4 linked regions of the Homo sapiens genome follow. The protein of the gene in region 1 purifies or fractionates together with the protein of each later gene. This does not show direct contact. Each region holds a gene or a part of one and is shown in the gene's direction. Other genes may lie near its edges.

Evidence for each region.
Region 2: the proteins of DDR2 (region 1) and HACD3 purify together in Homo sapiens (affinity purification with mass spectrometry; one large-scale study listed by BioGRID and IntAct). This does not show direct contact.
Region 3: the proteins of DDR2 (region 1) and ZNF260 purify together in Homo sapiens (affinity purification with mass spectrometry; one large-scale study listed by BioGRID and IntAct). This does not show direct contact.
Region 4: the proteins of DDR2 (region 1) and PLD2 purify together in Homo sapiens (affinity purification with mass spectrometry; one large-scale study listed by BioGRID and IntAct). This does not show direct contact.

Annotation. Positions count from the first base shown.
Region 1 is NC_000001.11:162,784,927-162,788,307, forward strand, and holds the end of DDR2 (discoidin domain-containing receptor 2 precursor), read left to right. Parts: 3' UTR 1-2,479; downstream 2,480-3,381. UniProt on the Homo sapiens protein: Tyrosine kinase involved in the regulation of tissues remodeling. It functions as a cell surface receptor for fibrillar collagen and regulates cell differentiation, remodeling of the extracellular matrix, cell migration and cell proliferation.
Region 2 is NC_000015.10:65,554,463-65,557,962, forward strand, and holds part of HACD3 (very-long-chain (3R)-3-hydroxyacyl-CoA dehydratase 3), read left to right. Parts: intron 1-424; coding exon 425-498; intron 499-2,276; coding exon 2,277-2,441; intron 2,442-3,500. UniProt on the Homo sapiens protein: Catalyzes the third of the four reactions of the long-chain fatty acids elongation cycle. This endoplasmic reticulum-bound enzymatic process, allows the addition of two carbons to the chain of long- and very long-chain fatty acids/VLCFAs per cycle.
Region 3 is NC_000019.10:36,511,272-36,514,771, reverse strand, and holds part of ZNF260 (zinc finger protein 260), read left to right. Parts: coding exon 1-772; 3' UTR 773-3,500. UniProt on the Homo sapiens protein: Transcription factor that acts as a cardiac regulator and an effector of alpha1-adrenergic signaling. Binds to PE response elements (PERE) present in the promoter of genes such as ANF/NPPA and acts as a direct transcriptional activator of NPPA.
Region 4 is NC_000017.11:4,820,541-4,823,930, forward strand, and holds the end of PLD2 (phospholipase D2), read left to right. Parts: intron 1-1,252; coding exon 1,253-1,367; intron 1,368-2,099; coding exon 2,100-2,324; 3' UTR 2,325-2,890; downstream 2,891-3,390.

The DNA of each region.
Region 1 (3,381 bases):
ATACTTTTAATTCTTGCTGATTTGTAAACTGGCCTTGCTTGGATACAACAGGAAAGATACTATCTGGATAAAGTTCTACAGTTTTAGAGAGACTATTAACACATTAATGTGTTCCTTTGTCATGAGCAATACCCTGCCTACACTGCTTCTAAATTTTCTGATTTGTTTGGCTGTTTGGCATCTGAAACAATCCAAGACAAACTTAGAAAGATTAGGCAACACAAAACACAGTAAGACCTGTTCATAGCTTGTTGTCTAGAAAACCAGGTAGCAGGATATTCTAGATGCTTCCTGCTGCTTCTACGTGAGTAGGATTAGCACTGGGGACAAAATAAGGAGTTTAGAGTAAACCAGTATTTCAGTCAAGAGTTAGTTGGCACTTAGTTAATGGCACTGGAAATAGCTTGTGGAGAGAATAGAATACAATGGTATAGACTCCTAATGTTTGATAAAATACTATTTTCAGAGTGGTAGAGAGGTTTTATTTGCCTAAATAGCCGTTATTAAATGGAATAACAACCACATTAGACCAAATTAATTGCAAACACAGCGGCAACCTGGGGAGAAGTTGAAACTCCAGTTTTGTGGATTACAGTTTTGAGTTTTATGATTGACATTTTTAAGTCCCCTATTTAAGGGGTCAAGATTATAACAATGTGTGTCTTACTAAGTTTCTAGGTCATTGTGAGCACTTGATAAATATTTGCTGAATGTTGTTTTTTTGAATGAACATAAGATAGAAACAAAAACTTCTCATCCAGTTAACTAGAGTGAATGTAGGGAGAATTGTTTTGCTTGTAACATGGAGAGTTTATTTTCAAGTGAGGAAAGAGAAAAAAATTACTCAGACTTGTTCCTGGTGAAGTGCATTCTCTGTTTGTATACTTTTTGATGGAGAAATTGATCTATAGAACTGCTTAATTTTTTGAGGCATTTAGACAGCAATGAAAGGTAGTTCTCCACAGGACACCGAATCAAAAGGAGAGACCAGACTCTGGCCTCATACCCAGCCTATTTGAAACAAGCTATCTAGTTTCTCCTGCAGACACCTTGTCAACAACATGCAACAGTGTCAGGTGCCTTGCAGGAAAATAATCTGAGTCCCAAGCTAGCCTGTGCTCATCCACAATCACAATGAACATGTCAAGGAAGAATTTGCAGAGACTCAAGGGAAGCACAATGGGATAAGGTAATCACTTTCAGTGAAAAACTGTTTTCTTGAAAACAGGCTTGGACACAATTGAAAGCTGGCTTCCTGCAAACACACCAAGAGTCTGTAATCTAGCCTATCCATTATATGTCCTTTATTATTCATGATATCCTATTCTTCTACCTTGTTGCCTGGTAACTTTTTCTGAGGACTGAGTTTCTGCAGCGATGTGGTGCACTCTTCCTGTGATGAGGAAACATCTGGGCCCCCTTCTGCAGGCTTTGGAAGATGATGTGTCTTGTCAAGGGGTAAAGGGCAAATGGATTTAATTTCTGCTTAAAACTATCATAGACGTTCCAAATAGAATATGTAAAATTTCTCTGTATTAGAAAAAGAAACGTGATACCAATTGTATATTTTCTTTTCTTTATTTATTCTCTGTAAGTCTGTCAGATGATAAATTGTAAATAACAATGATTAAAGAGTCATGCTACTGATGGATCTCCCTTTCTGTATAAACAGTGCCAGTTCTGGGCTTTGTAACCTTTGCTCTTTATAGTCTTTCATTCCTGGGGAAGTGATGGGGCATGGGCCCAGAGCTGGGGTGTATGTGGTATGGACACCTGTTTGTGGGGCTTTCCAGCAAAGGATTATTTAAATAGACCTCTAACATATGAGTTGACTGTTTATTGGGAAGAAAGCATCTTGGTCTCTGACATATCCAAACATACGAGACACTGGGATTTTACGTCCTCACATTAATTAGTCCAGTTCTGGGGAATCCAGTCTAGAATTAACTGGTGATCCCTTATCGTTATGGTTACAGACTTGTCTTGTTTGATACACAGAAATCCTTTTTAAATCCAAATATAGTCTGTCTCAGACTACCTGCACATGCACAAACCAAAAAAAACTATGAAAACCAGAATTTAGACTCAGTCATTATACTAGAGATTAGAATGAAACGACCCCAAACAACCCATTTCTTACCTGGTCTCTGAGAATAAGTTTATACTTTTAGTTTTCTGAGAATATTTCTCAGAATATGTGAGTTTTCTGAGCACATTTTTCAGCATGGGGTATGGTAGATAAATCACAGGGCCAAGGTTTGGCAGGGATAGATGGGATCATTGTGTACCCTATTGTTCTTCTGATTTCCAGGAGAACAGAATGAGCCCATGCAAAACATAAACTTATGATGATTAAAAAAAACACACCTATCCATTCACTCATCAATAAAAACATATTATGATGGTTATCAAGCTGTGTCCTATGAGTGATAAAATATTTGTAAAATATAAAATTAAATGGCATCTATTTTGAACTCTATTCTAGTCTCTCTGAGCACCTCTAGCAGTTCAGCCCATCTTTCAAAAGTCATAACACCTTGAAAGCAGCAACTTTAGTGCAGAAAAAGGAAGAAGAGAGCAGTTTCATCACTTGGCTTGAATGAAAATCTTGGGGAAAGGAGAGACAGACGGTCTTGCTCTGAAGCTGTCTGGACTTCACTTAATTCAGTCTGTCTTAGGCTGGCGGTCATCCCGAGACTGCGGTAATGCTGAGCCTCCACAGCCCAGGCCCTCTCCCTTCTTTATAGAAATGATTTTTTTATGGGACAGCCACACAACCAGGTCTTCTTCTTATTCCTTATCACCTCTGAGCTCTAGAACATTTTAAAATGAGTCTTTGGGTCTAGACTCTCACAATTAGGCTTAATTTTACTCCATGACTTTCAGAAAATGTTGTTAAATTGTGGTCTCTTTAGAACAGTTGAAAGTGGGATAAGCGTAGGAGCTGAGTTCCACCCCCATGATAAAGAAATTTTATTGGCCGGGCGCGGTGGCTCATGCCGGTAATCCCAACACTTTGGGAGGCCGAGGCAGGCAGATCACTTGAGCTCAGGAGTTCAAGACCAGCCTGGCCAACACGATGAAACCCCACCTCTACTAAAAAAAAAAAAAAAATATATATATATATATATATATACACATACATATATACACACACAAAAATTAGCTGAGTGTGGTGGTGTGTGCCTGTAGTCCCAGCTACTCGGGAGGCTGAGGCAGGAGAATTGCTTGAACCCGGGAGGCGGAGGTTACAGTGAGCCGAGATTGCGCCACTGCACTGCAGCCTGCTGACAGAGTGAGACTCTGTCTAAAAAAAAAAAAAAAAAAAAAAAATTTTATTTAGGAATCTAATGTTCTAATAACCAGATTTGTTCTTTCAAT
Region 2 (3,500 bases), on another chromosome or scaffold:
GCCTTTTGGCTACAATCAAGTATGATATTCGTGCCAGGTACAGTGGCTCATGTCTGTAATCCCAGCACTTTGGGAGGCTGAGGCGGGTGGATCACAAGGTCAGGAGATCGAGACCATCCTGGTTAACACGGTGAAACCCCGTCTCTACTAAAAATAAAAAAAATTATCTGGGCATGGTGGCGGGAGCCTGTAGTCCCAGCTACTCGGGAGGCTGAGGCAGGAGAATGGCATGAACCCGGGAGGCGGAGCTTGCAGTGAGCCGAGATCATGCCACTGCACTCCAGCCTGGGCAACAGAGCAAGACTCTGTCTCAAAAAAAAAAAAGTGTAATATTCGCATACTTGGGAAAGAACTGCACCAAGCTGGCTTTTGGATGGCCTTGCTCTGCTCAAGTTTGCAGTAACCCACATTTCTTTCTTTATAGCTCAAGGACATGGTGCCAAAGGAGACAATGTCTATGAATTTCACCTGGAGTTCTTAGACCTTGTGAAACCAGAGGTATGTTCTTTCCTTTCTCACTTCCCTTCCCATTTTAGGAAATGAATACCAGTAGTTTAGTGAAATGGGGAGCAGGGTTTGTGGAGAGAAGAAGATAAAAACCAAAGGGGAATAATAGAGTTCTTTTATTTGGAACAGAGCCCAGGTTTTAGCTGCAGAGGAATGGGAAAGTCAGAGACCCCAAGTTGAGTCAGGGCCCTGCCATTTATTAGCAGTGTGATCTTGAACAAGTCTCTTAACTTCTTCGAGTTCTGGTGTTCTCATGTGTTAAATGAAGGTCTGGACTAAGTGATCCTTCCAGCTCTGATATTCTCTGGTTTTAGTGATGGCAGAGGAATATGGCACCCATTGAGAACAGAGTTACATAGAGTGGTTGAAGCCCCCACCAGGGGTTACTTTCATGTGACTTTGCCACAGTTGCAGGTGAGAAAAATAGAAATCAGAAAGGGTGAAGGCAGCTGGCCTTCAGAAAGAATGCTGCAGATATCATCAAAACTTCCCTTCCCTTAGAGCCTGAGGAAGCTTCTCTCATAAGCAGGGAGAGAATCCAATAGATGGGGTATTTTGGCTTCTGGAATTACACTTAGCTCTGGTGGCTTGAGCTTCTTGATTTCCGTGCGCAGGTGCTCAGTTGTTTTGAGAAAGCATGAATAATAACCAGTGGTACAGTGGGCAGAGAACCTGTCATGGAGCTTCCTTTGGAGAAAAGGGACAGGACATGTAGACAAACAATGAGCTGGAATGGCCTATAAGAATTTGAGTTTAGTTGGGAAGACTCCCCAAATTGACCCCTGTGAAAAAATCTGTAACTGATCCAATACAGTTCTGATCTTGATGCAGGTGTTTCTAAAACCGGGGTCTGCTGAGCCAGGACAGTCATTTTCATGGGAGGAAAATTTATAAGCTGAGGGTAATTGGATGCAGTACCCTTGAGAGGGTGATTGGACATAGTACCTTGCATGATGTGGCTGTGGCAGGAGGTTCATGCTAGTTCCCTCCAGCCTAACCAGGAACTATTTGCCTTTCTTATCCTGATATCCTCCTGTATCATTCACTGGGGGAATCAGAGAAGGACATTATGTCCTTACCAGTTCTCCATGCCAGCCGTTGGTCTAGATCAACCTTTTTGGCACCAGGGACCAATTTTGTGGAAGGCACTTTTTCCACAGATGGTGGAATGGGGATGGTTTCAGGGTGATTCAAATGCATTACATTTGTTGTGCACTTTATTTCTGTTATTATTACATTGTAATATATAATGAATACAACTCACCATAATGTAGAATCAGTGAGAGCCCTGAGCTTGTTTTCTTGCAACTAGACAGTCCCATCTGGGGGTGATGGGAGACAGTGACAGATCATCAGGCATTATAGTCTCATAAAGAGTGAGCAACCTAGATTCCTTGCATGCACAATTCACAATAGAGTTCACGCTCCTATGTGAATCTTGTGCCAATGCTGATCTGACAGGAGGCAGGGCTTAGGCAGTAATGCAAGTGATGGAGAGCGAGTCTAAATATAGGTGAAGTTTCACTCACTTGCCCACCACTCAGCTCCTCCTGTGTGGCCCGATTCCCAACAGGCCATGGACCAGTATCAGTCCATGGCCCAGGAGTTGGAGACCCCTGGTCTAGATGTTCCCTTTGCATCAGGACTTGCAGGACCAGAGAAAGAAGGAGAATAAATATATCCTGCAGCTTCTATGTACGGCGCCCCTGGCATGGTGCTGCTTCAGGGAACAGAAGAGGGCATTCTCACATTTTCACTTTCTCTCCTAGCCTGTTTACAAACTGACCCAGAGGCAGGTAAACATTACAGTACAGAAGAAAGTGAGTCAGTGGTGGGAGAGACTCACAAAGCAGGAAAAGCGACCACTGTTTTTGGCTCCTGACTTTGATCGTTGGCTGGATGAATCTGATGCGGAAATGGAGCTCAGAGCTAAGGTTAGTAAGGATCCTAGGATCTAGCCATTGAGGACAAATCATGGGGAACCCACGTTATTCAGGCCACTTCAGATACCTCTCGGTCTGAAAGAATAGCTACAAAGTTACAAATTCATTTAAAGACCTGGTGATGTGATTTTCAAGAAGTATTGGCTATGTATTTTATAGACTTTCCTTCGGTTGAAATCTGTCTGATGTTTCTCTTACAACTAGACTAAGGTGATAGATGTTGAGGAGAAGACCACTGAAGTAAAGTGCAATTCTTATCACATCATATCAAGAGTACATACGGCCGGGCACGGTGGCTCACGCCTGTAATCCCAGCACTTTGGGAGGCCAAGGTGCGTGGATCACGAGGTCAGGAGATAGAGACCATCCTGGCTAGCACAGTGAAACCCTGTCTCTACTAAAAATACAAAAAATTAGCCGGGCGTGGTGGTGCATGCCTGTAGTCGGAGCTGCTCAGGAGGCTGAGGCAGGAGAATGGCGTGAACTCGGGAGGCGGGGCTTGCCGTGAGCCGAGATCACGCCACTGCACTCCAGCCTGGGCAACAGAGCGAGAGTCTCAAAAAAAAAAAAAAAAAGTACATACTGTCAACGTGACACATCACTGTTGATATTAACCATGGGTTAGCTGGCTTGAGGTGACGCTTATCAGGTTTCTCTACCATAAGGTTATTTTCCTCTTGGCTCTCCTTGGAAGGAAGTCACTATGTGTAGCCTACATTTAAGGAGCAGGGAGTTATGCTTCCTGTCCTTTAGATGGAGGGAGTATCTACATAATTTATTTGGAATTCTTCTGCATAGGAGAATAATTATGCATGTCTATTGTCTCCCATTTATTTATTCAATCATTTATATCATGTGAGTACATGGGTATTTATTTTATACTTTGAGTTATAATCTAATATTATTTATTTTGTTGCTCAAATTCTTCCAGCTTTGGCACTAACTGGCCTTTGGTTATGTCCTCATCCTGCCCATCTTTCATTTGGCTTTTGTATCTTTTTGAGAAAGCGCCATCATTATGGGACTGTTTTTTTTTTTTTTTTTGAGCAC
Region 3 (3,500 bases), on another chromosome or scaffold:
AATTCATACTGGAGAAAAACCATTTGAATGTAATCAGTGTGGAAGAGCCTTCAGCCAGAAGCAATACCTCATTAAACATCAGAACATCCATACTGGAAAGAAGCCCTTTAAATGTAGTGAGTGTGGAAAAGCTTTTAGCCAGAAGGAAAACCTCATTATACATCAGAGAATCCATACTGGAGAGAAACCTTATGAATGTAAAGGGTGTGGGAAAGCTTTCATTCAGAAGTCAAGCCTCATTAGACACCAGAGAAGTCACACAGGAGAGAAACCTTATACGTGTAAGGAATGTGGGAAAGCCTTCAGTGGCAAGTCAAATCTCACAGAGCATGAGAAAATTCATATTGGAGAGAAACCCTACAAATGTAATGAATGTGGAACAATCTTCAGGCAGAAGCAATACCTCATTAAACATCACAATATTCATACAGGAGAGAAACCCTATGAATGTAATAAATGTGGAAAAGCCTTCTCTCGAATCACATCACTTATTGTACATGTGAGAATTCATACAGGTGATAAGCCTTATGAGTGTAAGGTCTGTGGGAAAGCCTTCTGTCAAAGCTCATCTCTTACTGTGCATATGAGAAGCCATACAGGTGAGAAACCCTATGGTTGTAATGAATGTGGGAAAGCCTTTTCTCAGTTCTCAACCCTTGCTCTGCACATGAGAATCCATACTGGTGAAAAACCTTATCAGTGTAGTGAATGTGGGAAAGCTTTCAGCCAAAAGTCACATCACATTAGACACCAGAGAATTCATACTCATTAAAGTTCTCTATGAATGCCTTGGATTTAGCAAAACGTTCAGCAGATTTTACACTTAATAGTGTATTGGAAAATTCATTTTACATTAAAGTGACATGAATGTGGGAAGTCCTTCAGCAGCAATTCAAAACTTAAATACTATGATGTTTAATAAGTATTATAGTGTAAAGAAAACCCGTACCCCCAAAACTCCCACAACAAGCATTATCAATGCTGTACTTCTAGGAGTATACTCATTAAAGTTAGGATCTAGTCATGGACACTACTTAATGTGTTCCTGGAAGGCCTACAGATGCATTAAGAAATAGATATGAGATGTATGAGGATTTGAAATTAAGAGACAAAATTATCATTTTTGTGATGTTTTGCTACATATATGAATTGTAAAACTAGAATCATCAAAATTATTTGTTGTTGAAGCAGTCATAAAACTGAGACTGAGACAGAATATTGAATTCAGAAATGTGTGCATGAATATATGGGGAATTGGTAATTGATAGAGGCGGTATCCCAGATTGGTGGGGAAATCATGGATTACTTAAAAATTAATTGACTCTTCATATGGAAAAATAATATCTCCCATCATAATATAAAATATTTTTCTTATGAATTCTTAAAGTACTAAAGACTAAAATGCAAAAAGCAATACTTAATAATATAACAGTTTTATAAGAAGATGTTTTTAAAACCTTAGGGCAGGAAAGAACTTCTAAAACATTCCAGAATACCCGGTAGTTCCACTCTTGAGTATGGTAGTCCCCTATTTTCTGCAAGAGATGGACTCTAAGACCCCCAGTGGATACCTAAAACCCAGATAGGACCAAACTCTATGTCTATGTTTTTTTCTTATATATACATACCTATGATAAAATTTAGTTTACAGATTAGACACAGCAAGAGATTTAAAACAATAATAAACATAATATGGAACAATTATAACAATATACTGTAATCATAAAAGTTATGTGAATATGATCTTTCTCTCAGAATACCTTATTGTACTGTTCTCAACTATTTATGAACTGTGGTGACTACAGGTAACTGAAACCATGGAAAGCAAAGCTGTGGATAAGGGGGAACTACTATATATATGCATCTACCCAAGAAACATGAACACAGGGAGTCATGTACTGGTCTATAGCTGTATAGTTCATTGCACCATGAGTTATAGTAGCCAGAAGTTGGGAAACAAATGCTGTCTCTTGTGAAATAGATGAATAAAATGTGATAGTAACATAGTAGAGTACTCTCTAGCAGTTAAGTGACAAATTAAGTCTATATATTAACAGAAATATTTTTAAAAAATTAGAGTGAAGAAAAATGATGAACATATTGTAATGATGCTTCTGTGAATTTGAATAAAATCAACACTAACCAGCCCTAGTACTAAGAATTGGTTATGGATAAATTATGTAAAACTAAAGAATGGATTGAAAGGATATGTATATACTCAGTTCCCAAAAGTGGAGTGGTTACCTCTAGGAAGAAAGGAGGTGGAAGGGAAATGTTACCAAGCATGGTAGTTAAAGGATACTTCAATTTTGTATCTATTTCTTATTAAAAAGAAACATTCTAAGTAAACATAACGAAATATTAATTCTGGGTGGTGGTAATATTTGTGTTCATTCTATCATTCGTGCTATTTATTTCCTTAAACTTCTGAAAGTTAAAAAGTCCAGATAGGAGTGAGGAAGCTGTACATGAAACATAATGGACTTACATTCCTAGTCAGATACTAATATTCTGTAGAAGATATTTCTAAAATCTTATCTTTAAAATATGAAATAATTTTTAATTGGGGTGGCAACTTAAATTCAATTAAAATAACTCATGTGTCACAAGAGTAAATTTTACATAATCTGTACGTAGTTCTAATCTGTATATAGTCTTGGAGGTTATGATTTGCCACAGATTGGTTGGATCACATACATTTAAGGATCATATTATTAAATAATATATGCACAGACATGGAGAGAATTAGTTTTTACTAAAACATTTATCAGAAATTTTAATACTCTGCATAACCAGTATTAGCATTAGAAATTAGCCACTTTTAAAATGAGAAAACTGTGTCACTCTTCAATTTTTTTATAAGCCATTGAGGAAAACATTAACTCCTGGATTTCAGCTTCACTTTTAACCTGCAGACTAAATTTCTTTCTCAATTATGTCAGACACACCCAAGTCAATCCCAACCCCCTTGTTACCTTGGGAAGACCGTGCTGAAAAAGGAGATCTTCCACCTAAACAGTGTTCTCTTATTTGAAGCAAATCTTTTTGAGAATTTGTTTACTTGATTTCTTTCCACAATAAACTGACAGAGAACGCTACTAATGATTTTTTTTTTTTTTTGAGACGGAGTTTTGTTCTTGTTGCCCAGGCTGCAGTGCAATGGCACAATCTTGGCTCACTGCAACCTCTGCCTCACAGGTTCAAGTGGTTCTCCTGCCTCAGCCTCTTGAGTAGCTGGGATTACAGGCATGCGCCACCATGCCCGGCTAATTTTGTATTTTTAGTAGAGACGGAGTTGCACCATGTTGGCCAGGCTGGTCTTGAATTCCTGACCTCAGGTGATCCACCTGCTTCGGCCTCCCAAAGTGCTAGGATTACAGGTGTGAGCCACCACGCCTGGCTAATTTTGTATTTTTAGTAGAGATGGGGTTTCTCCAAAGGCTGGTCTTGAACTCCCGACCTCAGGTGATCCGCCCACCTTGGCCTCCCGAAGTGCTGGG
Region 4 (3,390 bases), on another chromosome or scaffold:
ACCACCGCCCCTGGCCAAAAAAAAAAAAAAATCTTTTTTTTTTTTCTTTTTTTTTGAGAGGGAGTCTCACTGTCGCCCAGGCTGGAGTGCAGTGGCGCGATCTCGGCTCACTGCAGGCTCCGCCGCCCAGGGTTCATGCCATTCTCCTGCCTCAGCCTCCCGAGTAGCTGGGACTACAGGCACCCGCCACCTCGCCCGGCTAATTTTTTGTATTTTTAGTAGAGACGGGGTTTCACCGTGTTAGCCAGGATGGTCTAGATCTCTTGACCTCGTGATCTGCCCGCCTCCGCCTCCCAAAGTGCTGGGATTACAGGCATGAGCCACCACGCCCGGCCAAAAAAAAAAAACTTTTGTGTTTTGTTTGTTTGTTTGTTTTCTTTTTGAGACGGAGTCGCTCTGTCACCCACGCTGGAGTGCAGTGGCGCGATCTCGGCTCACTGCAAGCTCCGCCTCCCGGGTTCATACCATTCTCCTGCCTCAGCCTCCCGAGTAGCTGGGATTACAGGCGCCCGCCACCATGCCCAGCTAATTTTTTGTATTTTTAGTATAGATGGGGTTTCACCGTGTTAGCCAGGATGGTCTCGATCTCCTGACCTCGTGATCCGCCCATCTCAGCCTCCCAAAGTGCTGGGATTACAGGCATGAGCCACCGTGCCCGGCCAAAAAAAAAATCTTTTAAAAGTAATTTTTTTCACAGGTTCTGAGGATTGGGGAAAGAACAGAAAAAGAAGAAAATTTAAAATAAAAATAATTTTTTAAAGCATCAAGGTAGTCATCAAAGTCAAGACAAATCAGAACTCTGTTGGCTTCTTTTACACTTATTTTACTATTTTATATTGCATTTATTTTGTTTTTGTTTGTTTGTTTGTTTTGAGATAGGGTCTTGCTCTGTCACCCAGCTAGAGTTCAGTGGCGTTACCACGGCTCACTGCAACCTCGACTTCGCCAGCTGAAGTGATCCTCCCACTTCAGCCTCCCAAGTAGCTGGGACTATAGGCACATGCCACCGTGCCTGGCTAATTTTTGTATTTTTTTGTAGAGATGGGGTTTTGCCATATTGCCCAGGCTGGTCTTGAATTCCTGAGCTCAAGCAATCCACCTGCCTCATCCTCCCAAAGTGCTGGGAATACAGGCGTGAGCCACCGCACCCAGCCAATTTTGAATTACCTGAGTAGGGACAATGTAACTTTTCTGGTACTCAGGTTCTCTAAGGATCTTAATCTGGCCCTGCTGGGACCCCTTTCTCCTATAGTGTGATTCTTGGAGCAAATACCCGGCCAGACTTGGATCTCCGAGACCCCATCTGTGATGACTTCTTCCAGTTGTGGCAAGACATGGCTGAGAGCAACGCCAATATCTATGAGCAGGTGGGAACTTGGGAGGGGTGGGGGAGAGTGGCCTGGGGAAATTTGTGGATTATCCTGCTCAGGGTAGGATGGAGAGAAGCGCCACCATACAGTCATTATTGGAAGGGGGATGAGGGCCTGGGGACATTTGCTATCAAGAGATTTAGTGGCCCAGGCCGGGTGCAGTGGCTCATGCCTGTAATCCCAGCACTTTGGGAGGCCAAGGCCCGGTGGATCACCTGAGGTCAGGAGTTTGAGATCAGCCTCCCAACATGGCAAAACCCCATCTCTACTAAAAATACAAAAAAATTAGCTAGGTGTGGCTGGGAGGCTGAGGCAGGAGAATCTCTTGAACTCAGGAGACAGAGATTTCAGTGAGCCGAGATCACGCCATTGCACTCCAGCCACCTGGGCAACAAGAGCAAAACTCTGTCTCAAAAAAAAAAAGTACAAAAGTTAGCCGGGCATGGTGGTGGGCACCTGTAATCCCAGCTACTCAGGAGGCAGAGGCAGGAGAATCACTTGAACCCGAGAGGTGGAGATTGTAGTGAGCCGAGATCGCACCATTGCACTCCAGCCTGGGCAAAAAGAGTGAAACTCCGTCTCAAAAAAAAAAAGAGAGAGAGAGTTAGTGGCCCAGGGTCAACGGGGGGTATGGAGAGATGGTATGGGGGAAGGGGTCTAGCCTAGTTGGACTTAGATTGTTGGGAGAGTCTCCCCAAGCCTTACTGGCGTCCATGCCCCCGCCCACAGATCTTCCGCTGCCTGCCATCCAATGCCACGCGTTCCCTGCGGACTCTCCGGGAGTACGTGGCCGTGGAGCCCTTGGCCACGGTCAGTCCCCCCTTGGCTCGGTCTGAGCTCACCCAGGTCCAGGGCCACCTGGTCCACTTCCCCCTCAAGTTCCTAGAGGATGAGTCTTTGCTGCCCCCGCTGGGTAGCAAGGAGGGCATGATCCCCCTAGAAGTGTGGACATAGTTGAGGCCCCCGTCAGGGAGAGGTCACCAGCTGCTGTGCCCCACCACGTCTGGCTCCCTGCCCCTTAACCCCAAGGACTGAGGGCAGTGCCCTTTGAGATCTGGGGAGGCAGGCATTCCTGAAGGGAACTAGAGGTGTTACAGAGGACCCTTACGTGAGAAATAGCTGAAAAGGGCACTCCCAACCCTGGGCTGGGGAGGAGGAGAGAGTCCCAGAGCTCATCCCCCCTGCTGCCCAGTGCAAACCACTTCTCCATGCTGCAAAGGAGAAGCACAGCTCCTGCCAGGGTGAGCAGGGTCAAGCCTCTTATTCCAGGAGAAGGGGGCTCTGCCCCAGGCCCTACTACCCATTGTTCCCTTCCTCTTCCTGCCCTTGAACCCCCTCCCTGTCCCAGGGCCCTCCCAGCCCATTGCTGCCAAGGTGGAGGGAAGGATAAAGCCACTTCTGGCTTCAGCCCCCACCAGGGGAAGGAAGGAGGGCACATTAACTCCCTCCACCAGCCTGCTGACAGACACTAACTTTGTATCCGTTCAATAAGCATTTCATAAATAAAGGTGTAGAAAAGGTTCATGCGTCTTCCTTGGAGGAACTAACTGCTCGTTCCAGCCTCCCGTTCCTGCCCACACGGGGCACCAGTCCCCTTCACCTTATCTCCACCCTCCTCCACTCTCCTCTCTCCACCTCTGTTCTACCTATCTGTGGCTTCGGGAGCTCGGTCACCTGGCTCCTGAGAGGAGAAGGTGTTGACACAGTGCCGCCTGGGTAGAAGGACGGGCAGGGCCCAACCAGGGCACCTGGAGAACTGTGGAGCTGCTATCACAACCGCAGGTGAGGGAGATGCTCTGAGAAGGACCTAGAGAGGCTGCCTCTTGTTCAAGCAACAGCCCTGGTAGAGGCTTAATGAAGGCCCTGTGGGAGTGGTTGAGGGTATAGGCTTAAGGTCAGGAAGACCTGGACCCAAATCCTGGACTCCTCAATGAGAAGCTAGGTGAACTTGTCAAGTCATTCACTTCTCTGGGCCTCAGTGGTCCCCGCTGGGAAATGGGAATAATACTTACATGACTAG